3 separate regions of the Homo sapiens genome follow, and regions 2 and 3 are each reported to be linked to region 1. Evidence: microRNA targets listed by miRTarBase, many of them from high-throughput screens and not tested one by one. Region 1 holds a microRNA gene; each other region holds the end of a gene's coding sequence.

What was found. Region 1 holds the annotated microRNA hsa-miR-6828-5p (AGGAAGCAAGAGAACCCUGUGG, at 1,272-1,293, shown strand). A microRNA usually pairs through its seed, bases 2 to 8, with sites in the 3' UTR of a target mRNA and lowers its output. Matches are read on the target gene's strand: a 7mer-m8 pairs with bases 2 to 8, a 7mer-A1 pairs with bases 2 to 7 and ends in A, and an 8mer does both.
Region 2: miRTarBase lists BCL7A as a target of hsa-miR-6828-5p. Seed matches in the 3' UTR shown: 7mer-m8 at 3,173-3,179.
Region 3: the mRNA of LIN7C is a reported target of hsa-miR-6828-5p. Seed matches in the 3' UTR shown: 7mer-A1 at 1,038-1,044.

What each region holds. Positions count from the first base shown.
Region 1 is chr3:170,421,837-170,426,184 of GRCh38, forward strand. It overlaps MIR6828 (microRNA 6828), which reads left to right and starts at 1,267; the gene lies at 1,267-1,326. CLDN11 (claudin 11) reads left to right here. Exons shown (of 3, transcript NM_005602.6): 2 at 1,327-1,491. RefSeq lists enhancers at 3,519-4,020, 4,021-4,348.
Region 2 is chr12:122,058,344-122,062,539 of GRCh38, forward strand. BCL7A (BAF chromatin remodeling complex subunit BCL7A) reads left to right here. Exons shown (of 6, transcript NM_001024808.3): 6 at 749-3,701. The coding sequence ends at 820. Among named protein-coding and RNA genes, the nearest start is that of LINC02985, 2.8 kb to the right of the region's middle.
Region 3 is chr11:27,494,846-27,499,041 of GRCh38, forward strand. It overlaps LIN7C (lin-7 cell polarity scaffold C), which reads right to left. Exons shown (of 5, transcript NM_018362.4): 5 at 1-3,959. The coding sequence ends at 3,804. Among named protein-coding and RNA genes, the nearest start is that of LIN7C, 9.8 kb to the right of the region's middle.

The DNA.
Region 1 (4,348 bases):
ATACAGTTTTTACTTGGCATTTTACTTGACAGGATAAAGTTCATGTAGTTTTGCTCTACTCTTCTATTTTTCAGTTCTCTTATTCCTTGATTCGCAATTGTTTCCATGATCTGTTGTGGGCACTGTGTTAACTCCGTGAATACCAAGGCAGGTGTCTGCCCTCCAGGAACCCTGAGGGCTGGAGAGATGCCTTTTAAGCAATGATGGACAGTTGGGGAAGGATGCCCAGGGCACTGTGGGTGAGGCAGGAGATGGGGTCCAACAATTTAGGGGCAGGATCCATGAGGACAGCAGCCTCTGGGGAGACAGCAAAGAGAGGAAGCCTGAGTCTTAGTTTAGTCTGGGTTAGGGCCACAGCCAATGTGAATGAAAGCACATGGTTAGGAGAAAATCACCTAGGACACCTGAAGATGAAAGCGCTGCACTGAGACAGACAAAGAACACCAATGATAACAACTAACCTTTTTTGAGGATTTGGTATAGGCACTGTTTTAAGCACTAAATAAATTAACTAATGTAATCTTCAGTAGAATTCTATTACAGAGATGTAGGTACTATTATATTATTATCAATACTTTGTTTGTTTATTTATTTATTTATTTTGAGAAAGAGTCTCGCTCTGTCACCTGGGCTGGAGTGCAGTGGCTCGATCTCAGCTCACTGCAACCTCCCCCTCTCAGGTTCAAGCGATTCTGCTGCCTCAGCCTCCCCAAGTAGCTGGGACTACAGGCTCACACCACCACACCAGGCTAATTTTTGTATTTTTAGTAGAGATGGGGTTTCGCCCTGTTGGCCAGGCTGATCTTGAACTCCTGACCTCAGAAGATCCACCTGCCTTGGCCTCCCAAAGTGCTGGGATTAGAGGTGTGAGCCACCATGCCTGGCCTGTTGTTACTTTATAGATGTGGAAAATAAGACATCATGGTTAAGTAACTTGCCCAAGGTCACACAGGTAGAGCTATCAATAGCAGACTGGAACCAATAGAGGCCCTCACAGAATGATTCTTGGGAGATTTCAGTTTTCATCTGAACTTTCTCAGGGGGATGTAATAATGTAAATGGACTCTTGGCCCCTCCATCCTGGAAGCTTGGCCAAGTGGCCTAAACCAGGGGTCCCCATTTAGTTTCTCCAGCCCCCTTTTTTCTTGCTGAGTTGTTTTAAAAGTTAAAAAGTGCTTAGTGACCTTGGACAACATTAGCACCTTCTAAGTCCTGGAATCCACCAAGAAGGAGGAAGGGAGATGGTGCTGAATTCCCCTAAGGCAGGGCTCAGGAAGCAAGAGAACCCTGTGGTCTAACCTTTCCCATCTGCTCTCTTGTTCCCAGGCTACGTGCAGGCCTGCCGCGCCCTGATGATTGCTGCCTCGGTCCTGGGTCTGCCGGCCATTTTACTGCTGCTGACTGTTCTTCCCTGCATCCGGATGGGCCAGGAGCCCGGTGTGGCTAAGTACAGGCGGGCCCAGCTGGCTGGTGTTTTGCTCATTCTGCTGGGTAAGACAGCTTTCTCAGTGGTACCCTACCTATGAGGGAGCCTGATGAATCTCAGATCTTGTGGTTGCTGCCTTCTCAAGTTCAAGAGAAATGTGAAAGGAAGCCAAGTGAAGCCAGTGGGGGATGGACTCCCACAATCTGTATCCCTTTGTATTTTATGGGCAGTTTACACAGAGGGCTAAGTAATGTCTCTGGGAGTCACTGACCATGAAGATAAGTTTAAAAAGAGAAAGAGGATTTTGAAGGTAGGAAATACCTAAGGGAAAGACCTGAAAGATGGAAGCCTTCTCAGTCTTCACAGTGGAATCCTTTTTGAACACCTATGCCCAGGTCCCACAGCAGATCAATTGAATCAGAATTTTCTGGGCATCAGGCCAGGCAAAGATATTTTTTGAAAGCTTCCCAGGTGATGCTTATGTGCAGGCAAGACTGAGCAGCTCAGTTAATAAAGAAGGAGGCCGAGGTGGGCGGATCACCTGAGGTTGGAAGTTCAAGACCAGCCTGGCCAACATGGTGAAACCCCATCTCTACTAAAAATACAAAAATTAGCCAGGTATGGTGGTGCATGCCTGTAATCCCAGCTACTCGGGGCGGGGGTTGCTAAGGCAGGAGAATGATTTGAACCCAGGAGGCAGAGGTTGCGGTGAGCTGAGATCACGCTACTGCGTTCCATCCTGGGTGACAGAGTGCAACTCCAAAAAAAAAAAAAAAGAAAAAGAAAAAGAAAAAAGAAAGAAAGAAAAAAGTAAAGAAGAGGGCAAGAGAAAAGTCAGGAGTTGAGGGTGGTTAGACCACCAGGTGATGGCTCCGTCCTTTAACTCAGTAAGCCTTCCTTGAGCATGTGGGCCAGACACCATGGTAGGTACTGGGGACACTGGGGAAAATAGGCCGTCTTTGCTTTGAGTGTACTTGGAAACCTCAATAGAATATGGTATGTGCTCATGTAGAAAAGGTATATAGTCTGTGCATACACATAGGAAGGCACCTAACCCAGACTGGATGAGTTTCCAGAGTGGAAGAACCCAGCAGTAAGCTCTGAGACTTGAAGAGGAGGTGGGCTGGTCATGAATTGAGGGGAGGGACAGTCCAGGGACAGGAAATGGCATGTGCTCATTTGGTTTTGCTGATTATACCTGCACATAAAGGGCTTCATTTAACAACCTATGGAGGGTCCTTCTAGCTCTCTTCTCGTCAGTGATTTAATTTCTCTCCGTTTTTTTCCCTCAGATGCTAGTTTCATTAGCACATTCTAAATCCTAATAGACAATATGAATTTTAAGAACAACTCTTGTTGCAAAGTGCGCATATCAGTGACAACAAATTAGTCTGGTAATGGGTTAGATATAAAATCACCTTCTTCTGAAACAAGGAATTCATACCCCCAGATTGGCATATCAGATGATGAATTTGAGGGGTAAGGATAAGGGGTCAGGGTTCTGTGTGGGTTGATGCCACTTGGTGGGTACCTCCCATCTGGAGGCCTCACACTCATAATGACACCAGTAAGGTGAGGGGACATGAGAGGTGGGGCACCATTTTCCAGGATTGCAAAGGGACGGAGGTTTGCAGGTTCTTGTGAAGCCACAAGGGTGTGTGTGTGTGTGTGTGTGTGTGCGCGCGTGTGTGTGTGTTAACAGGAGTGAAAAGGCCACTAATTTCCAGAGAAAAATCTGAATGTGGAAATTTTGGTTCCAGCCACAAAGAATTTGTGTGCCAGCGTCACACGGAACACATATCAGCATCCGGTGCTTTATCTGACTCACAGGGGCTCCCTCTTGCAGTGCTCTATGGAGGTCAGGTCTATTGTCTGACTCCCTTTCCAACAGGAAAGTGAAAGCTCCACAAGTAAACTTGGTTTGCAGAATCCAGGTGAAACCCTTCTCCTAGACACTTGCTGTTTGTTACTTTCCTCACATTCTCACAGAAGCCCCGGAAGGTTCTCTTGGGCTCTGAGGATGGCAGAGCCAAAAGGTGGGTCTGTTGTGTTGAGTGCTCATGTTTAGAAATTCTGGCCTTCCATATGAATGTCACAGGTATCCACAAGTGAGAGAACACACTAAAACAAACATACAAACCCTGGAAAATAGAGGGATAAAAGCAAAGTATACGTAGTTTAAACAACCCTAAAAACAACAGAATTGTTTAGTTGAATAATCAGGGATATTGAAGGAAAAAGCAACCGGTGGTTTGAAACTTCCTAGCTGAATTTGTTTTTCTTTATCTTCTAAAAGTGTGTTGATATAGATAGGCAGCATCACAGAGGAAGAAAGCAAGGTGGGGCTGGGGAGTGGGTGAGTGCCTCAGTCCCTGTTTGCCTGTCTGGAGTGAAACTATGGGGGAAGCAGGACATGGAGGGACCTGACCCCACCCAAGGAGGCTGCCCATTTCCGGACACTCACCAGAGTCCCCTCATTGCCCTTTTACGGCCTTGCATTTCCGATATTGTCTGCCTGCTTTGCTCCTATCCGGATTTGTTTCTCAGTGGATCACCACTGCCTTTGGGCTGGATGTTGTTTTGACCGGAACGAGCTAGCTCTGGAAATGTAAAGCTCATTGTCTCAAGCATGGCACCTGCTGATCTCCTCTAGGTCTTCTCACCACGGAGCCCCAAGTGCCTTGTTTCCCCTGTTGGCAGTGGTGGGAGGAGCATGGGGACTGAAGGCTCCCTTTGTGTTGCTCTGGACTGTTTCTGTCACTCCCCCAGAGAAGCCAGCGCTAGGCCTGTGCAAGGTCCTCAGGGTCACTGAATGGGGCTGAACAAACACACCTCATTCGACCAAAGAAGATGAGGCACCTCCTGGGTTTCGGGGGCCTGGGAACTGGACACAGTGTCACAGCTAGTCCTGGTATGGGAACT
Region 2 (4,196 bases), not on the chromosome of region 1:
GAAACCCTGTCTCTACCAAAAATACAAAAAATTAGCCAGGCATGGTGGTGTGCACCTGTAATCCCAGCACTCTGGGAGGCCGAGGTGGGCAGATAACCTGAGGTCAGGAGTTTGAGACCAGCCTGGCCCACATGGTGAAACCCCGTCTCTACTAAAAATACAAAAATTAGCCGGGCATGGTGGCGCGTGCCTGTAATCACAGCTACTTGGGAGGCTGAGGCAGGAGAATCACTTGAACCCAGGAGGCGGAGGTTGCAGTGAGCCAAGATTGCCCCACTGCACTCCAGCCTGGCAACAGAGTGAGACTCCATCTCAACAACAAAAACAAGAACTTGGAAAGGTGAACTTGAAACAATAATCACAAGTAATCACCCTAGCAATGAATCATAGATGGGAAGATTGATAACAGCAACTTCTGGTCCAGTCTGAATGAGTGGGGAGAGCCTAGGGTCCAAGGCAGCAGTGTAGGAAATGCTCCCGAGTTACCAGCCATTGGCATGTGATAGGGTCAGGCAGGGGCCAGGGGACACCGCGCTCCATAGCTCCAGGAAGAGTTTGGGTGTGAGGGTCTCCATAGGTCCTCAAACTCTCTGGAGTCCACGCTTGGGCCTCGGGTCTGGAACTGCTGGTCTGAACCACAAAGCCGCCCCCGCTCGGTTCCTTCCTTGGCTGACCTTCGGCCTCACGCCTGGCCTAACTTGCTCTCCTGGCCCATTAACCTGTGTTCCCCTTTTCTCCTCTCCCCAAGGATTTGGAAGGAGTGCCACCCTCTAAAAAGATGAAACTGGAGGCCTCTCAACAAAACTCCGAAGAGATGTAGACGATGCTTTAAAGCCTCCGATCCATGTTCCATGGAAGGTACATCAGCAATTAATTCTAGAGCAACTTTGCCCCAGCGATTCCTCTTGGGTGCGAACAGAACTACTAACGTTTCAAGTTTACCAAGTGCAAATCCAAGAAGACCCAGAACGGCGTCACTTCTCAGACACTGAAGAACTCTGCTGTGAAGCAAAACACTCAAACCTTTAAGGGACTGTCCTTGGGGAGGCAGGCGGGGCTGACAGCTCAGGAGTGTCTGCACACTGTCTCGGAAGCCAGGATTCCATTTGTGTTGCTGCTGTATTTTCCCCCCACTTCTCTATGTAACGATATAAGCTATCGGAGGGTGGTACCGATCAGGAACGCTTTTTGGCGGGGCTTTCCACTGTTCAACCGATTCCTTCCGCTTTCTTTTTTTGTGCCTTGTGCCCTTGAGGTGACCTCTGGCATGTATCCTGGTGGTTCTTACATCCCCCTCTGCAAAGTGCCCTCTTGGTTTGGTTCGGGCGGCGGCTGCCACCCTACTCACCGCTCTCCTCCCTGCCCCAGGACTTCATCGGAGCAGGCAGGGTGGAGCGAAGGAGCTCCTTAGCCCACCTGGTTTGCAGGTGCAGGGGGACCTTAGGCACGCCCCAAGCACCAGGCACCAGGGCCCAAGGACGCGCAGGTGTTGGGGCACAGTCCCCAAGGGCTCGGCCCCTTGGATCAGGCTGGGCACTCGCTGTGCTCTCCCCTCCTTGGGGCGTTTAGGACTGGGCGTCTCCAAGCCCACCATGGCCCAGATGGACGTGCAAAGCCCTTGGAATTTTCTGGCACTTCCTCTCTATTGCCCCCACCACCACCACCCCCATCACTGCTTTCTCCCAGACCTCCGAATACGAAATGGCTTCTCTGGCTGACTGCAAGGCTGTCTCCTTAAGGCACTGAGTGGGCCGGGGAGGCTGGGAGCCGGCGGCAGGATTAGCTGGTGCTGAACTTTCTCTCATAGGACGTCGCTTGGATTTCAAATCCACGGTCACCTGCTGCCCTTTGCCTCCCCCGACGCCCCAGCCTGTGCCCCGGAGAGGCAGGATCGCAGTGGTCAGAATCCACGTGCTTTCCTATTCTCAGGCTGTTCTGACTCTGAGCCAACAGCTGGACCGTGTCTCATCCCCAGAACATGCCGTCTGTCCCCACCGGGGAGTGGGCCTTGATGGCCGGGCCTCGAAGGCCACAAACAAGGCGTCGAGGAATTGGAAAGATTTGCACACCCTCCAGAAAGGAGAGACGCAATCTCCCCTCCCTCCCATCCCCCACCTTCGCTGGAACAGCTTCCTCTCACTGAACGGAGACGCCCCCTTGGACGAACTGCCTAATCGTTTGGTTCTGAGGCCTGGTTTGCTCTTAATTAATATATGAACTCCTCAGACCTTAAACCTTTTCCTAAGCTTTCTTTACTGCACTGGAGTTCTGACTCCCTTTGAGTTGTGTGTTACTGGGGGTGGGGTGGGGTCATGGGTTTTGTTGTTTTTGGGGGCTAATTGGTGCATATTCAGGTACCACCTTTGACGTGTGGCTCTTTCTCCTGACCATCATGGGAAGTGTCTGCTGGATTCCATTTTCTAAGAGTTTCTGAGGGTGAGGCTCTTATTTTTTTTTTTAAGGGATCCTGTCTATTTCCTGCACTTCGAGAAGAATCAAAATGTTCCTGAATTTCAAATACCTCATGCAAAATGTCTCCTGAAATAAGGGAAAAAAAAAAAACCACAACTTTGAAAATCTTAATGTTGAAGTTAGCAATGCCGAAAGGTTTCTGTCTTAAAAAAAAAAATCCTTGTACTTATCAATTTTGCCCCTTAGGCAGTCAGTTTTGTTGAGAACTGTGTCCTGCATCCTGGCGCAGAACCTACCTGATGCGGTTCCTCTCCACGCATCTCGAGGCGGCGTTACCTCCAGATTCCGTAGAGTTAGAGTCACATTTTTCTTTGCAGCGAAACTCCATCTTGGTGAGAGATGAATTTGGATATTTATTTCCTTCTCTGTTTTTGGGAAACGAGAGGCTACAACCAAGACAGCTGAAGGAGAATGAAACACACACATCCACAGAAACAGAGAGGCGTAGGTGGCCCTGCCGTTGACCGCAGCCTCTCTGGACAGGCAAGGGGAGTTGGCGCAGGTGAGGACTCAGACGACGTCCACCGTCCCAAGGCTGTCACTAGTATTTCTCTGAAGTGCCTGAAGGTAGGAATGGGCCGGCGATTGGGACCAGCTGGGCCCCACCACGGCCACGCCAGGCAAAGCGCCAGCAGCCCTGCACTCCACGCTGGCCAAGAAGGCCTTCCACGCAGAATGACAAGACTGCAAAAATCCGATGTGCTTCCTTCCCTGGCGCAGTCGCTCCTCGAGCCGCTGCCCCCCACCCACCCTGCACCCCTCGCCCTCCCCCCACCACAGAATCTAAGACCTTTCAGCTTCGAGCCAGGGGGCGGGGGATCCCGAGCAAAAGCCTTCCGTGGACATCAGGCCCCGTGGCCTCAAGGGCTCCCAGGGCAAACCTAATTCCCCCCAAAACGTGAAGTCGGGGAAGCTGCGGCTACACATTCCACAAAGTGCTGGCACTTACACCCACAACCCGGAAGGCTGTGGACCGATTCCTCTAGGGTGGTGACCTCCCATTAGCAAACGGTGTCATGGTTTGGAATGTTCATTATCGCCAAGAACCTGGTTAGAGGCATAAAGACCTTTTTTCACCGTTACCTAATTTTTTCCCCTTTCAAGAATTTTTTTTTTTTTTGGTGTGTTGTACAGCAGTATAATTTTTCACTTATTTATTCCATCAGTAGATATGGTTTGTACAATGTACAATTGTTTCATTTCAGAAAATAAAAATTTCAAATCATGAATACCTTGTGGTTTTGTCTCATTTTAAGTAAGGTCAGATCGATGGTGACGGTGTCCCTCTCCAGCTGCTCCGGCCTCTCTTGCTTGGCCGTGTGGCCCTGATTCTACAAGACACACAAGTTCCTTGCACACAGGAGCTGTTGCCTTCCATAGTCATAAGAGCTGCCATTATTAAGCACCAGCTGGATGCCAGGCAAGCCACTAGTTGCTCCTTTCTGTGGGCAGGTATTGTTGGCCACCTTGTGCAGGTGAGAAAACAGCAGGACAGTCCCCTGCAGGGCTCTCATGCCGGGTCAGGCCCCCAGGTTGAAAGCCACACCTGAGGCCAGGCGTGGTGGCTCATGCTTGTAATCCCAGCACTTTGGGAGGCCGAGAAGGGCGATCACCTGAGGTCAGGAGTTCGAGACCAGCCTGGGCAACATGGCGAAACCCCGTGTCTACTAAAAATAGAAAAATTAGCCAGGTGTGGTGGCACACACCTTTAATCCCAACTAGTT
Region 3 (4,196 bases), not on the chromosome of region 1:
ATTATAAAACCAGATTGTTGGCAGAGGACACAACAAAATGTAAGTTAGAAAATTCATAAACATACATTTATTCAGGAAATACAATTACTAGAATCCTTGATATTTCAATGATCATTCCACATTATAAAATATTCACAAACATGTAGTTTTTTAAGTCTACACCAGGTCATGCTGACATTCTTTTTGGATAAGCCATAACCATTTCTTCTATTAAATGCTATAATATCCATTTTAATTGTAAACAAAGTACTTGAGCCAGACTACTTAAGTACTTGAGCAAAATAACTTAAAAAAATCTTAAGAGGAGGAGGACAATGATATTTTTTAAAAACATATTTGAGGCTGGGCATGGTGGCTCACGCCAGTAATTCCAGCACTTTGGGAGGCCGAGGCGGGCGAATCACGAGGTCAGGAGATCGAGATCATCCTGGCTAACACGGTGAAACCCCGTCTCTACTAAAAATACAAAAAAATTAGCCGGGAGAGGTGGCACACGCCTGTAGTCCTAGCTACTCGGGAGGCTGAGGCAGGAGAATTGCTTGAACTGCCTTGAGGTGGCGGAGGCTGAAGTGAGCCGAGATCACACCACTGCACGCCAGCCTGGGCAACAGAGCAAGACTCTGTCTCAAAAAAAAACAAAAACAAAAAACAAAAAAAAAATTTGAATCGTCAAATCCTAAAGAACTAGGCTGCTATTATCTAGTATTATACTAACAAATGAAGTGCCCACATTAAGACAGTACATAATTATTAACGACAATATTTCTCATCTGCAATTTTTAAACATGCTTTCTCAAATAACAAACACGTATTTTTGTAAGTTTTAAAGGCAAAGGGGGCAGAATGATGACAGACATAAAAAGCTCACATTTAAATTACTGGTAGATTTTATTAAAAAAAAGAAAAAAGAAAAAAAAAGATAAGACTGTAATTACTTCCCAAATAAGGAATGCCAAGTACCTTTTATTCCTAAAAGAAATTACTTGGCCAGGTGCAGTGGCTCACGCCTATAATCCTAATGCTTTGGGAGGCTGAGGTGGAAGCCAAGGAGTTTCAGGCTGCAGTGAGCTATGATCACACCACTGTGTTCCAGCCTGGGAGACAAAGCAAGATCCTGTCTCTTTTAAAACAAAAAACAAACAAACCAAAAAAAAAACAAAAAAAAAACCTAAGAAATGTAATTAATCATTAAGTAGCTGCAAATTGAACTGTTCTATTTTGATACTTCCTAAGAGTGTCCAGTGTAATCAGATCATTTTATAATGGGTTATTGACCCTAGGTGTCCTTTAGAACCACCTGGAAAGCTTTACAAAAAAAAAAAAAAGGGTGATTTTGATTTAGTTGTTATGGAATAGGACCCAGGTATCAATTTTTTAAAGCTCTGCCAGGCTAATATGTAGCTAAGATTGAGAATCACTAAGTCAACACATTTTGATATATCAAGAAAATAAATGGAAATGGGGGTGATAATTTATATTTGTAATTTACAAATCAAACATCTATCATACACTTACTATGTACCTAGTTTTATTCACGAATCATCCATTTCTAAGATAAAAATTCCCATCATTTCCTCACTGCACTAAACCACCACTGTACATCTTTGCCAATGAATGACTGTATTTTTCTATGGTCAAGATTTAAAATTCTGGGATACATTATGAAAACTGCATTAATGAAAACAACCTACTGCTATTCATGCTCAACAGTAGCAAGCTAAACTACTGTACTTGGCTCCTTTGAGCTACCCTTATTTTAAGAATTATAAATAGGTGTCAACCCACACAAAGAACAGATTGTGGATTACCGTAGGGAAAAAAATAGCTTACTCAACTTACTAAAAGTTTCAACACCAAAAAAGATTTAACTTGGCTGAAAGTTCTGAAACAGCTGAGACACAGAACCAGGAAGCTATAATTTATAATGAAATGTTGATACATACTTAAAAGCTACTGCAGCTGTAGCTATACTAAAATAAGATTTCTTCAGGGTTTACTTACCCTGAAATGCAAGAATACAAGCATAACAATAATATTACTGTTTTTATATGCACCAATACCTCTCTTTAATATATAAAGCTCTACAACAAATACCTCTAATAATTTTACAATTAAATTAAGTCCATACTTCTATACTACTTTGGTCTCAACATTTTTAAAACATCAATTAATTTTGAAAATTTACAATTTAACAACATGATCCTATCAATAACAAGCACATTTTGTAGTGGATTAAAGACACATTCAACCATGCAATCCAGTGTTCAATACCTTAATGATAAATAACAATGCTGATTGACTTTTATTTTGAAAAATCATTGAAAACTGGAATAATCATCTGAGACTCACAGTGATCACAAACATGCAGAAAAAAGCATACAATTCTATTCTTCCTGAAGGAATGTTACAAAATGCCCACTTTTTTATATAGGGTCAATATGCCAAATTACTTATATTTTTCAATCCATCATCTTCTAACATTTGTCACTTAAATTTTTCTTAAAGTACAAATGTTCCTGTAAGTTGTAACAGAAAATGAACCCCAACTCTTTCAGTCTTTAAGACCTCAGTCACAGTCCCACACTAATAGCTGCCTTTTAGTAAAATAGTGACATCCAGTGGACAAATGAAATATTTCTCAAATTCCCATATTTGAATCATAAACAAAAGTTGCCTCTTTAAATCCAACAATTTTAGTATGAGTTCCTACTTATTTTGATGGAATCTACAGATTCTCATGAATACTTCACATCATAATTTCTATGTATCTTAAATATATCCTCTTTTCTTCCTATTTAAAATCAATTATTTAAATTGAGCTAGTAAGAATGTCTACTCTTGAAGCTAGTGAGGTTAAAGGTATTACTTTTCCTTCTTTGCTTCAGCTACTTCCCACCACCAAATAACTGGTTTGTCTCTAGGAATGGAAGGACTAAAATATAGGGGAAATACTGTGCATTTAAATAAAAATGAATAGTATTTAAAAGAAATCACAAAAGATGAAATCTGAACCTGTTTTGCATTTATAATTTGATGTACGGTTGAACATAAATAGGGATGTAATAAGTAATGCTATCAATTACATCCTCTTGCCTCAATGCTCAAATATTAAGAATATGTATTTTAGCAATGATTGTTTCAGTGTTTAAAAACTTACTTTCATAAATCAGTATAAATGAATATCCATTATATATTATGTTTAAGTAAAAGTGAAAAAACTTGCACTGTACTGAGTCATGATTTACCACTGGTTATATATATTATGTGTGTGTTCAAAGTACAAAATGCAGCAATGATGTTAACATTGACAGTGTAATGAACTGCCGTAGATGAGACTGTTATGCTTAATTTCTTGGAAAACTGTAAAGAAATTTCACAGGTTAAAAAAAATAGAGTAAGCAAAAAAAAAGAATTGGAGAACTTTACTTTTAAATCAGCAGCTAAATGAAGAAAACTTTTCCTTTCTAAAAAAAGATTAAGAATGTAAAAGTACATTTTAATATTAAAAAAGCATTTTAAAAAATCTATAACAACTTTATGACAAAATCTGCATTTGAAAAAGGCCTGTAAAAACAGTAGGACAGAATTGCCCTCATCACCTTTTACTTTTTCTTGTCAGAAAAAAGTGTATGCATCTCTGGAACCATAAATGATGTTAAAATAGGCATTTATAAAATGACAAGGAGAATTTCATGATAAATTTGTTTGTTTTCTTACAATCATTGGCATTGCAGCCATTAGTAAGTCACAAGGAAAACTTCTCTAGCTAAAACGCAAAATGAAATATCAAGTTTTGAAATGTATTAGGTCTGTTGCCTGCGTTTTGCTGATCTCATTTTTTCAAAGCGCGACTCCATTTCTTCTAAGACTTTGGGTGTGTATCGTACCACTAATTTAACCTTTCCTTGTGCGGCTTTCAGCAGTTCTACAGCTTTTTCATGATGTTCTCCTTCAACACTCTAGGGGAAAAAAAAACAACCAACCATACACTAATATCTAAGTTTTGAAAGTAACTCAAAATGCAAAAATGTTTACAATATATATAATGAAGAAAAGTTTTAATGTTATATTATTCCAACATTACAAAACTAAGAAATAATCCTGCCTTACCATTTTAATCTATATGAAATCCTCTCTTACATCATATTCTGTTTATAGTCTAAAAGCTGGCTTTTAAGTTCCAAATAATTAGCATA